Linked DNA regions of Homo sapiens: region 2 is linked to region 1. The links come from fine-mapping of genetic effects on gene expression. A gene starts in region 1. The other region holds a variant in brackets. All regions are shown on one strand. Distances are from middle to middle. Region 1 holds the start of DHX37 (DEAH-box helicase 37). Region 2 overlaps DHX37 (DEAH-box helicase 37).

Region 1 (5,367 bases):
ATTTAGGGGATTCATTTGCCTGTGTTTGAAGTTTATGTAAATGAACCACACAGTACTCTGGGGGTTGGCTTCTTTTGTTCAACTTTTTTTTTTATTTATTTTTTATTTTTTGAGACGGAGTCTTGCTCTGTTGCCCAGGCTGGAGTGCAGTGGCATGATCTCGGCTCACTGCAACCTCCGCCTCCGGGGTTCAAGCGATTCTCCTGCCTCAGCCTTCCGTGTAGCTGGGACTATAGGCACGCGCCACCACACCCGGCTAATGTTTGTATTTTTAGTGGAGACAGGTTTCGCCATGTTGGCCAGGCTGGTCTCAAACTCCTGACCTCAGGTGATCCGCCTGCCTTGGCCTCCCAAAGTGCTGGAATTACAGGCGTGAGCCACCACGCCCAGCTTTTGTTCAACTTTATATTTGTGAGATCCATCCATGCTGTTATGTATCTGCCTTCTTCTTGCTGTCTAGAATGGTCTATACCTTCTGGAAGGTAATTCACTGATATATTATATTTTAGAAGGAAATATAGGCAAGTGTACTACTACCTACTTAACATTTTTTAAACGTTTCTTAAACTTTTAATTTATTTAAATAAACATATTTAAAGAAGAAACTTTAGATCACTATCATCCTGAGCAACAAAATCCATAAAAACACAGATTTGAGCCTGGGTGCAGTGGCTCAGGCCCGTAATCTCATCATTTTGAGAGGCCAAGGTGGGCCGATCACTTGATGTCAGGAGTTTGAGACCATCCTGGCCAACATGGTGAGACCCCATCTCTACTAAAAATACAAAAATTAGATGGGCATCTTGGTGGGTGCCTGTAATCCCAGCTACTTGGAAGGCTGAGACAGGAGAATCGCTTGAACCCGAGAGGTGGAGGTTGCAGTGAGCCGAGACTGCTCCACTACACTCCAGCCTGGGCGTCAGAGGGAGAGTTCTGTCTCAAAAAAACAAAAACAAGCAAACAAACAAAAAACCCCATAGATTTGATACGCTAATTATGATTTTTTTAAACGTCATTCATTAAGGCCTTCACAGTGGCTTATGCCTGTAATTCCGGCACTTTGGGAGGCCGAGACAAACGGATCCCTTGAGCCCAGAATTTTGAGACCAGTCTAAGCAACATAGGGAGACACCATCTCTACAAAAAAATAGAAAAATTAGCCCGTCGTGGTGGTGTGTGCCTGTAGTCATAACTACTCAGGAGGCTGAGGTGGGAGGACAGGTCAAGGCTGCAGCGAGTGGTGATTGCACCACTGCACTCTGGCCTGGCCCACAGGGCGAGATCTCATCTCTTAAAAAAAAAAAAAAAAAAGTCGGGCGCGGTGGCTCATGCCTGTAATCCCAGCACTTTGGGAGGCCCAGGCAGGCAGATCACGAGGTCAGGAGTTTGAGACCAGCCTGGCCAACATGGTGAAACTCCGTCTCTACTAAAATACAAAAACTAGCTGGGGGTGGTGGCGGGCACCTGTAGTCCCAGCTACTCGGAAGGCTGAGGCAGGAGAATCGTTTAAACCCGGGAGGCAGAGGTTGCAGTGAGCCGAGATTGCTCCACTACACTCCAGCCTGGGCAACAAAGCCAGACCTTGTCTCAATAATAATAATAATGCATTGTTTCCCAGTGTGTTACAATGTGATGCGGTAATGGGAATTTAAAGTTATGTAATAGACAACTTTATTTTTTTTTTTTTGAGACAGAGTCTAGCTCTGTTGCCCAGGCTGAAGTGCAGTGGTGCAGTCTCGGCTCACTGCAACGTCCACCTCCCGGGTTCAATCAATTCTCTGCCTCAGCCTCCCAAGTAGCTGGGATTACAGACGCCTGCCACCAGGCCTAGCTAAATTTTTTTTGTATTTTTGGTAGAGACGGGGGTTTCACCATCTTGGCCAGGCTGGTCTTGAAATCCTGACCTCGTGATCCGCCCGCCTCGGCCTCCAAAAGTGCTGGGATTACAGGCGTGAGCCACCGCGCCCGTAGAGGCCTCCTTTTAGATCTTCCATCTATCCCTGTGATGGAAATATTTGGTGCCTTTTTAAAAGTACACGACTAATACGTTTCTTGTAGGAATATCAGAAAATACAGATGCGCAAACCAGGGTTGGGGGGAAGAAGTTTGGAGTACTGGGGGCGGGGTATATTTTAAAAGGTGGCAAAACACTTCCACTCCCAAGAAGCCAAATTAGTATCAGTAGATATAATTCATATTTAAACCCAGACTACCCCAAGCGAGAACAGCCCAGGACTTAAACTCCGGCCTCCGCTGGGACCTCAGGCCCCGCCTACTTCTCTAAATAGTCCCGCCCCCTGCCCGGCCCGGCTCCGCCTCTCCTCTTCGCTGGGTTTCTCTTGCAACCCCGCCCCTCAGCGGCAAAGTCAGTTACAGTTCTCGCGATAACACAACCCGGAAGTCTCACGGCCGGAGTTGGTGGTCTGGGAACCCACGTGGGCTGGGTTTCGGATTGCTCTGCTGGTCCGGCCGCTGGAGCGCCCACCCTGGCCTAGTCGCCATGGGGAAGCTGCGCCGGCGCTACAACATCAAGGGGCGCCAGCAGGCGGGCCCCGGACCCTCGAAGGGCCCCCCCGAGCCGCCCCCCGTGCAGCTGGAACTGGAGGGTAAGACATCCCCGGACCGGGGCTGGATTTCGGAGATTTCCCAGGGCGGCCTGTGCCCTGCCTTCAGGACTCTCGGGTGGGGATCCCAGAGGGGTGGGATGGATCATCTGGAATGGGGGAATGGGTCCCCCCATTCCAGATGATCCAAAGGAGAGGGGCTTAGTGACAGCCTAGTTTTAACAGTGTATATGGAATACCCGGGATTTCTCTCGCCCTCAAATAGTAACATGGAGAATTTGGCAAAAAAAACAGGAGTAGTTCCATCCCTTCCCATGACTTCGATTATAATCTCTTTATAATCTCCAGCGACCCCCAAATGTGTATTTTCAGCCCAGTCTTGTCTGCTCAGCTCCAGGCTGGCTGACATTTCTCTCAGACCCCTTTTTAGGAGTAGCCCTTATTACATGCCAGGCACTATTCTAGGCACTGGAGACATAGCAGAAAGGGAGATTTTTAGAAAATCCCTGAGTTTACCTGCTGTATAGGAGGAGACAGGCAAAGAATAAACATATAGAAATTTATGCGGCTATAGTGAGCAGATAAAACAGAAGAGGCCATTGGGTGGGTTGCAGCATCCCATAGAGTTGCTGGAGAAGACATCACTCTGTTAGAGTCAAGATCTGAAGGAGACCTGAGTGGCTGCCTGGAGATGAGAGAAAAAACAGGGGGCCAGGGCAGGTCGGGCCTGGACTGCAGTCTTGGCGAGGACTGGGGCTTTTTCTCTACGGGAGAGGGCAGCCATGGGAGCATTTAGAGCAGAGGAGGCGTGGTGGTGGGCACCTGTAGTCCCAGCTACTTGGGAGGCTGAGGCAGGAGAATGGCTTGAACCCAGGATACGGAGGTTGCAGTGAGCCAAGATCGCACCACTGTACTCTAGCCTGGGTGAGAGAGCGAGACTCCATCTCAAAAAAAAAAAAAAAAAAAAAAAAGTTCCACAGACAGGCTGGGAGTTGAGGCAGATCCCCTAACATCTCTGTGCCTTCGTTTTCACATCTGCAGAATGGGACCAGTAGCACACGTTGAGCAGCCTTAATCCAAAATACTCCAAAATTCAAAAGTTTTTGAGTGTCAACATGACACTTAAGGAAATGCTCATTGGAGCATTCCAGATTTCAAATTTTTAGATTAGGGATGCTCAACCAGTGAATAGAATACAGATGTTCCTAAAGCTAAAACAGGTCTGGTTCCTAGCATTTCTGGAAAGGGATATTTAACCTGTAGTAGCCGTCTTACCTCCTATCAGAGTTTTGGAGATGGTAATTTGGGAAAATATGTTGCTTTGAAAAGTAAAGAAAGGTTACAGAGGTGGGGTGTGTCCCAGGACAGGTGACAACCGTTATGATGGCAGTGACAATTCAGGATGGCACCTCAAAGACAGCCGTAGACACTGGGCTGACACTTGGAACTGGACCACCTGAGCAGAGGGGCTGAGGTCTCTCAGACCCAGAGATTTGGGGAAAGTTGTTTCTCACATCAGAACAGGACATTTCCATGTATCCCTGCCTTTCTCAGGGGCCAGAGGAATCTCATAAGAACATGACTCAGATTACCTTCTTTTATTTATTTATTTATTTGAGATGGAGCCTTGCTCTGTCGCCTAGGCTGGAGTGCAGTGGCGTGATCTCTGCTCACTGCAACCTCCACCTCCCGGGTTCAAGCAGTTCTCGTGCCTCAGCCTCCTGTGTAGCTGGGATTATAGGTGCATGCCATCACACCTGGCTAGTTTTTGTATTTTTTGTAGAGACGGGATTTTGCCATGTTGGCCAGGCTGGTCCCCAACTCCTGGCCTCAGGTGATTTTCCCAAAGTGCTGGGATTGCAGGCGTGCGCCACCGCGCCCGGCCCCACCGTACACTCTTAGGAGAACATCAGGCTGGGTGCAGTGGCTCACGCCTGTAATCCCAACACTTTGGGAGGCTGAGGCGGGTGGCTCACTTGGGGGTCAGGAGTTCGAGACCGCCTGGCTAAGATGGTAAAACCCCGTCTCTACTAAAAATACAAAAATTAGCTGGGGCGTGGTGGTACATGCCTGTAATCCCAGCTACTTGGGAGGCTGAGGCGGGAGAATTGCTGGAACCTGGGAGGCGGAGGTTGAAGTGAGCTGAGATTGCGCCACTGCACTCTAGTCTGGGGGACAAAGTGAGACACCGTCTCAAAAAAACAAAAAGAGAAAATCATAGTATTTTTTGGGGGGTTTTCTTTTTTTTGAGATGGAGTCTCACCCTGTCGCCCAGGCTGGAGTGCAGTGGCAAGATCTCGGCTCACTGCAACCTCCACCTCCCAGTTTCAAGAGATTCTCCTGTCTCAGCCTCCCAAATAGCTGGGATTGCAGGCACCCACCACCACACCTGGCTAATTTTTGTATTTTTAGTAGAGACAGGGTTTCGCCACATAGGCCAGGCTGGTCTCGAACTCCTGACCTCAAGTGAGCCACCTGCCTCAGCCTCCCAAAGTGCTGGGATTACAGGCATGAGCCCCTGCGCCAAGCCTTGAGAACATCATAGTATTGTTATGAAAATAGATTTGAGCTCACAGATCCCCCTGTTCCTGTGTGCAGACTCAGGAGGCCCCCATGCAAGTCAGGGGGCTTGTGGGAGGCGGGACCAGAGCTACCTCAAGGAGAATGGGGACTTAATAACTGTGCTCTCTCAGACAAGGACACGTTGAAGGGAGTTGATGCAAGCAACGCGCTCGTTCTACCGGGGAAGAAGAAAAAGAAGACCAAAGCCCCTCCCCTGTCGAAGAAGGAGAAGAAGCCTCTG
Region 2 (5,367 bases), 41 kb after region 1:
TCGTGGAGACCACTAAGATGTACATGAAAGGTGCCGAGGCCTGCGGACAGCCCCTTGTCCCCCGATGGTGACGCTAATGGGGGTGTGGCTGGGACCCTGGGGCAGAGGCATGGCAGCCCCTCCCACGGAGGGTGCCGCTGTAACCCCAGCTTCCTCCCCCGGCCCCCAGGCGTCTCTAGCGTGGAGGTCCAGTGGATCCCGGCCCTGCTGCCCTCTTACTGCCAGTTTGACAAGCCCCTGGAGGAACCAGCCCCTACATACTGCCCCGAGCGGGGGCGGGTGCTGTGTCACCGGGCCAGCGTGTTCTGTGAGTTGGGGCAGTGTCCTGGGCAACCTGAGCCTCCTGCAGCCGTGGGCTTCTCGGACACACGGTCCTGTCCCCTGCCCCCGGACGTGTGTGTCTCGGGTGGGGCAGGGATGGGACTCGGGAGGGCAGCTGCAGGAGGGTCCCTGTCTCACTGGCTCCCACCTTCTAGATCGCGTGGGCTGGCCGCTCCCCGCCATCGAGGTGGATTTTCCAGAGGGGATTGACCGCTACAAGCACTTTGCCCGGTTCCTGCTGGAAGGGCAGGTAGGTGGCACAGCGGCTCCAGACCCTCATCTCGGGTACCGTGGGCAGCAGCAGCCCGGGCCTCACCCCTTCCTGTGGTCTCTCATCAGGTCTTCCGCAAGCTGGCCTCATACCGGAGCTGTCTGCTGTCCAGCCCCGGCACCATGCTGAAGACGTGGGCCAGGTACTGCCTTCGGTGGGAGCCTCGCAGTGGGCAGGAGGGGTCCGAGGCCTGAATGACCTCCCCGGGGCTGCCAGGACAAAGCACCACACACAGGGAGGCTTAAAACATCAGAAGTCTGTGCTCAGGTCTGAAGGCTCTGCAGAGCCACGGTCTGTGCAGCGGCTCTCGGGGAGGGTCCGTCTTGCCTCTGTCGGCCTCCTGGGCTTGTGGCCACATCACTCCAGTCTCTGCCTCCATCTTCACGTGGCCATCTCTCTGTGTGTCTTTAGTCTCCCTCCCTGTGTTCTCCTTATAAGGACACCAGTCATTGTATTCAGGGCCCACCCTACTCCAGGATGACCTCTCCTTAACTCATGACATTTGCAGTGACCCTCTTTCCATATAAGGTCACACGCTGATGTTCTGGGTGGACATGAATATGGGATAGGGGAGACACTGGGCAGCTCCCACAGAGCCGCCAGGTGTCAGTGGGAGGCATCCTGCCCTCCTGGCCCTGGGGACTTCCTCCCAGCTAAGCAGACCCCTGCCCCATCCCGCCCACCACCTCTGCTTCAGGGCTCACCCTTGCCCTCTGCCTCCTGCTTCTGCTCTCCTCCTGCCTGTGGTCCAGACCCACAGACACCTCCCCCTTCCTGGGGCTGGTGGGGCCTATGGTGCAGGGGCTTGGGGCACTGGAGGCAGGCCTGAAGGTGCAGGCAGGTGCCAGGGACTCGAGATGGGGCGTGGGGCACAGCACCCGCTGCTGGGCTGTCAGGAGCCGTGTCAGTCACTCAGCTCACGTTTTCCAGTGTGGCCCTGTCCCAGGCATGTTCTCGGGGCTGGGATACAGACACGATCTCTGTCCCACAGCAGCGTTGCTCGGCCCCAGAGGGACAGAGCAGGACATGAGTGAGGCCTCGGTGGGCAGGGGGTGGAGTGCGACTGGGCTGGTCGGGGAGAGCCTCACTGGGCAGATTCAAAGGAGCCAGGGCTGCAGCTGGGCACAAATCTGGAGGAAGGTTCTAGATGAGACAAGTTGCATGCACAGAGCAGCCTTGGTGGGCAAGGAATGTGGACCAGAGGCAGCCAGGGTGGATGGGAGGAGGTGGGATCTAGAGCCTTCTGTCCCGGGATGATTAGGGGAAGGGGACCCTTTGCCTTCTCTTTTATTTTATTATTATTATTTATTTTTTAGAAGGCCTGTCTAGAGAATTATGTTTTTTTGCTTTTGAGTTTTGTTTGTTTGCTTGTTTGTTTGAGACAGAGTTTTGTTCTTGTTGCCCAGGCTGGAGTGCAATGGCGTGATCTTGGCTCACTGCAGCCTCTGCCTCCTGGGTTCAAGTGATTCTCCTGCCTCAGCCTCCTGAGTAGCTGGGATTACAGGTGACCGCCACCATGCCCGGCAAATATTTTTGGATTTTTAGTAGAGCTAGGGTTTCACCATGTTAGCCAGGCTGGTCTCGAACTCCTGGCCTCAGGTGATCCACCTGCCTCAGCTTCCCAAAGTGCTGGGATTACAGGCGTGAGCCACCACGCTCAGCCAGTTTGTTTGTTTTTGAGACAAGTTCTTGCCCTGTTGCCCAGGCTGGAGTGCAGTGGTGCAGTCATGGTTCACTGCAGCCTCCAACTCCC[A/G]GGCTCAAGGGATCCTCCTACTTCAGCCCCCTGAGTAACTGGGGCTACAGGTGCATGTCACCATGCCCAGCCAGCTCTTCACCCTCCTGGGTGGGGCTGGTGGGGTGGTGATGCCTGCCCTGCTTTCGGGCCCCCAGCAGCAGCCGGTCTGTGCCCTGGCTGCCTGCCACCAACGTGCATTCCTGCCCCACAGGCTGCAGCCCCGTACGGAGAGCCTTCTGCGAGCCCTGGTTGCAGAGAAGGCTGACTGCCATGAAGCCTTGCTGGCTGCTTGGAAGAAAAACCCCAAATGTGAGTTTGACCAGGGCCAGGGGGTGGGAGTAGACAGGATGGGGTCACTGAGGCAGGGGCTTTGTGCTTTGTGCACGGTCAGCCCTGGCTTGGCAGAAGGATCTGGCCCCACGGCTGCTGGCCAGCTTTTTGCCACCTGAGGAGAGTCCCTGGGCCCAGGGTCACCCTGACACTGTCCTCCTTCCCTCCCCTGCAGACCTGCTGGCTGAGTACTGTGAGTGGCTTCCACAGGCCATGCACCCCGATATCGAGAAAGCCTGGCCCCCCACCACTGTCCACTGACCAGAAACCTGGCTGCAGGGCCGAGGACTGGTTTGGGGACTGGAGGGCTGGCAGCAGCCTGTCACCGTGCGACCGTGACCACCTGGCATGGGCTTCGTGGCCTGCTCTCAGGAAGTGGGTCAAGCCCTGGGAACCCTCATCCATGAGAGCTCGATCCCGTATGAAGGGTGCTGCCGCCCGTGCCATCTGGCCCGGGGGTGACTTTTTGAACTGTTTATTATATGGTGGATGATGATTTCATCTCACGTGCTGGACGCTGTTCTGTTCAGTGTGCTCTTTGGACTACATTAGTCCCCTGTGGAGCAGCAGGGCTGGAGATCTCTGCAGTCCCTTCCCCGCCCGCCCTGCCAGAAGGCCGAGGAGGCACGTGGAGGGCCTCCTTCCTGCAATTCTTCCCTCTCCAGAGTCAGGGAGGGCTGCCCAGCCCTGGCCTCACAGCCGTCCCAGATGTTAGGTGAGCCACTGAGCTCTGTGTTGACCTTGAGGGGCCTGGCTGGGGGCCCCCAGGCTCCATGCCTTCTTGGGAGGGTGGCCGCCAACGCCTTTCCTGTGTTATGGCAACAGGGAGTGGGCATCTCATCTGCCTGTGGTCAGCTCTCAGACGGCAGGGAGCGGAGCTGACGTTGGCTGTGCTTGGTCACCGCTGCCATGCCGCAGAGGATGCGCCTAGCTGGGCTGGGGCCACACGACTATTATGTTGGCCTTGAACGGGGACTGCAGAGCCCTCAGTTTGTCTCCCTTGTTCCTCTGTGGCTGAGGTGGGAGGGGGAGGGTGGGGTAGGTCCCCCAGCAAGAAAGAGGGACAGGAGCACCCCAGGCAGGACCAAGGAGTCGGGAGGCCCCTGCCTTCTGTCCTCCATGGTGAGGGCACAGATGTCTCCCCAGAGCCCAGCGCTGGCAGAATGGATTCTGCTCCTGGCTTTGCTTCTGCGGCTTCGGTGGAGACAGTTATGGAATAAAATGTTCCTTGCACCCAGATTGTGTTGTGGAATGCACTTGGGGAAGGACACCCAGGTGGCCAGTGTGCTGTCCCGGGACGTGGCCTGGTGGCCGACCTGCCTTCCCAGCACTGCTGTCTGCTTTAAGGAGGCCTCTCCTCACTGGGTTTACTTACCTCCCTGGCTGCTCTCAAAGCCCAAGCAGCAACCTCTCCCCACCTGCCCCAGAGCCGAGATGGCAGCCCGGCCCTTCTCACTCTATGTTCCTCCCCAGGAGCCCAAGGCAGGGCCATGAGCCAGGGCAGCCTGCAGACACGTTTCGCTTGACCCGCCCGGTGATTGAGGAGGACTTGAACTCCTCACTAACATGTAGAATTGGGCTATTTCCCACTCGAAAGTACTGACCTCCAGCTTTCCTAAAATCCCACCGCACATGGGCTAGCAATTCTGAGATGAAAGCGGAAGCTGTCATTCCCACCAGTGTCTCAGGCGCCAGGGCAGCCTCCTCAGGGACGTCCCTGCCTCCTCATTGCACTCCACAACCACAGCAGAGCATCCACAGTTGTAATTAGGCAATTCTTCTTAAAAAATGTTATGTAATTAGCACACCATAAAATTCCCCATTTTAAGGTATACAGTTGCTTTTAGTGTATCACAGTTGTGCAACCGTTACCATGACCTGATTCCAGAGCATTTTTATAGCTCTAAAAAGATACCCTGTACCCATCAGCAGTCTGCCCCTATTTCTCCCAGTTCCCCAGCTCCAAGCCCCACGAATCCACTTTCTGTCTCTGGATTTGCCCGTTCTGGACATTTATCTCTTTTGCTGCTTTTGTTTGTTTGAGACGGAGTCTCGCTCTGTTACCAGGCTGGACTGCAGTGGCGCAATCTCGGCTCACTGCAACCTCTGCCTCCCAGGTTCAAGCGATTCTTCTGCTTCAGCCTCCCGAGTAGCCGGGACTATAGGCACATGCCACCACACCCAGCTAATTTTTGTATTTTTAGTAGAGACGGGGTTTCACCATGTTGGCCAGGATGGTCTCGAGCTCTTGACCTCGTGATCCACCTGCCTCCGCCTCCCAAAGTGCCGGGATTACAGGTGTGAGCCACCGCGCCTGGTTTGTTGCTTGTTTTTTCAAGAGGATCTTATTCTGTCATTCAGGCTGGAGTGCAGTGGTGCGATCCTAGTTCACTGCAGCCTCCATCTCCTGGGTTCAAGTGATCCTCCTACCTCCCAAATAGCTGGGACTACAGGCACACTCCACCATATTGGGCTAAAATTTTTAGTAGCGACAGCTCTTGCTATGTTGCCCAGGCTGGTCTTGAGCTCCTGAAGTACTTCATTCCTTCCTATGGCTGGATAATACCCCATTGTATGGATAGACCACATTTTTATTTGTTTCCGTCTTTTGGCTATTGTGAATAGAGCTGCTGTGAACATTGATGTACAGGTTTTTGTTTGTGTGGATGTATATTTTCCATTCTCTTGGGTATATACCTAAGAGTAAAAA

Evidence for each region. PIP is the estimated chance that this variant, and not a neighbour inherited with it, causes the effect.
Region 2: its variant is the best candidate, but not a certain one, in a credible set for the expression of DHX37 in whole blood (TOPMed, PIP 0.67).

The regions. Positions count from the first base shown.
Region 1 is chr12:124,986,156-124,991,522 of GRCh38, reverse strand. It overlaps DHX37 (DEAH-box helicase 37), which reads left to right and starts at 2,392. Exons shown (of 27, transcript NM_032656.4): 1 at 2,392-2,606; 2 at 5,258-5,367. The coding sequence starts at 2,501. RefSeq lists a silencer at 2,479-2,688 and an enhancer at 3,929-4,472.
Region 2 is chr12:124,945,353-124,950,719 of GRCh38, reverse strand. DHX37 (DEAH-box helicase 37) reads left to right here. Exons shown (of 27, transcript NM_032656.4): 22 at 1-30; 23 at 170-307; 24 at 477-571; 25 at 661-734; 26 at 2,539-2,636; 27 at 2,833-3,894. The coding sequence ends at 2,918. Among named protein-coding and RNA genes, the nearest start is that of TRA-TGC4-1, 8.1 kb to the right of the region's middle. The variant A/G (reference allele first, on the strand shown) is at 2,346.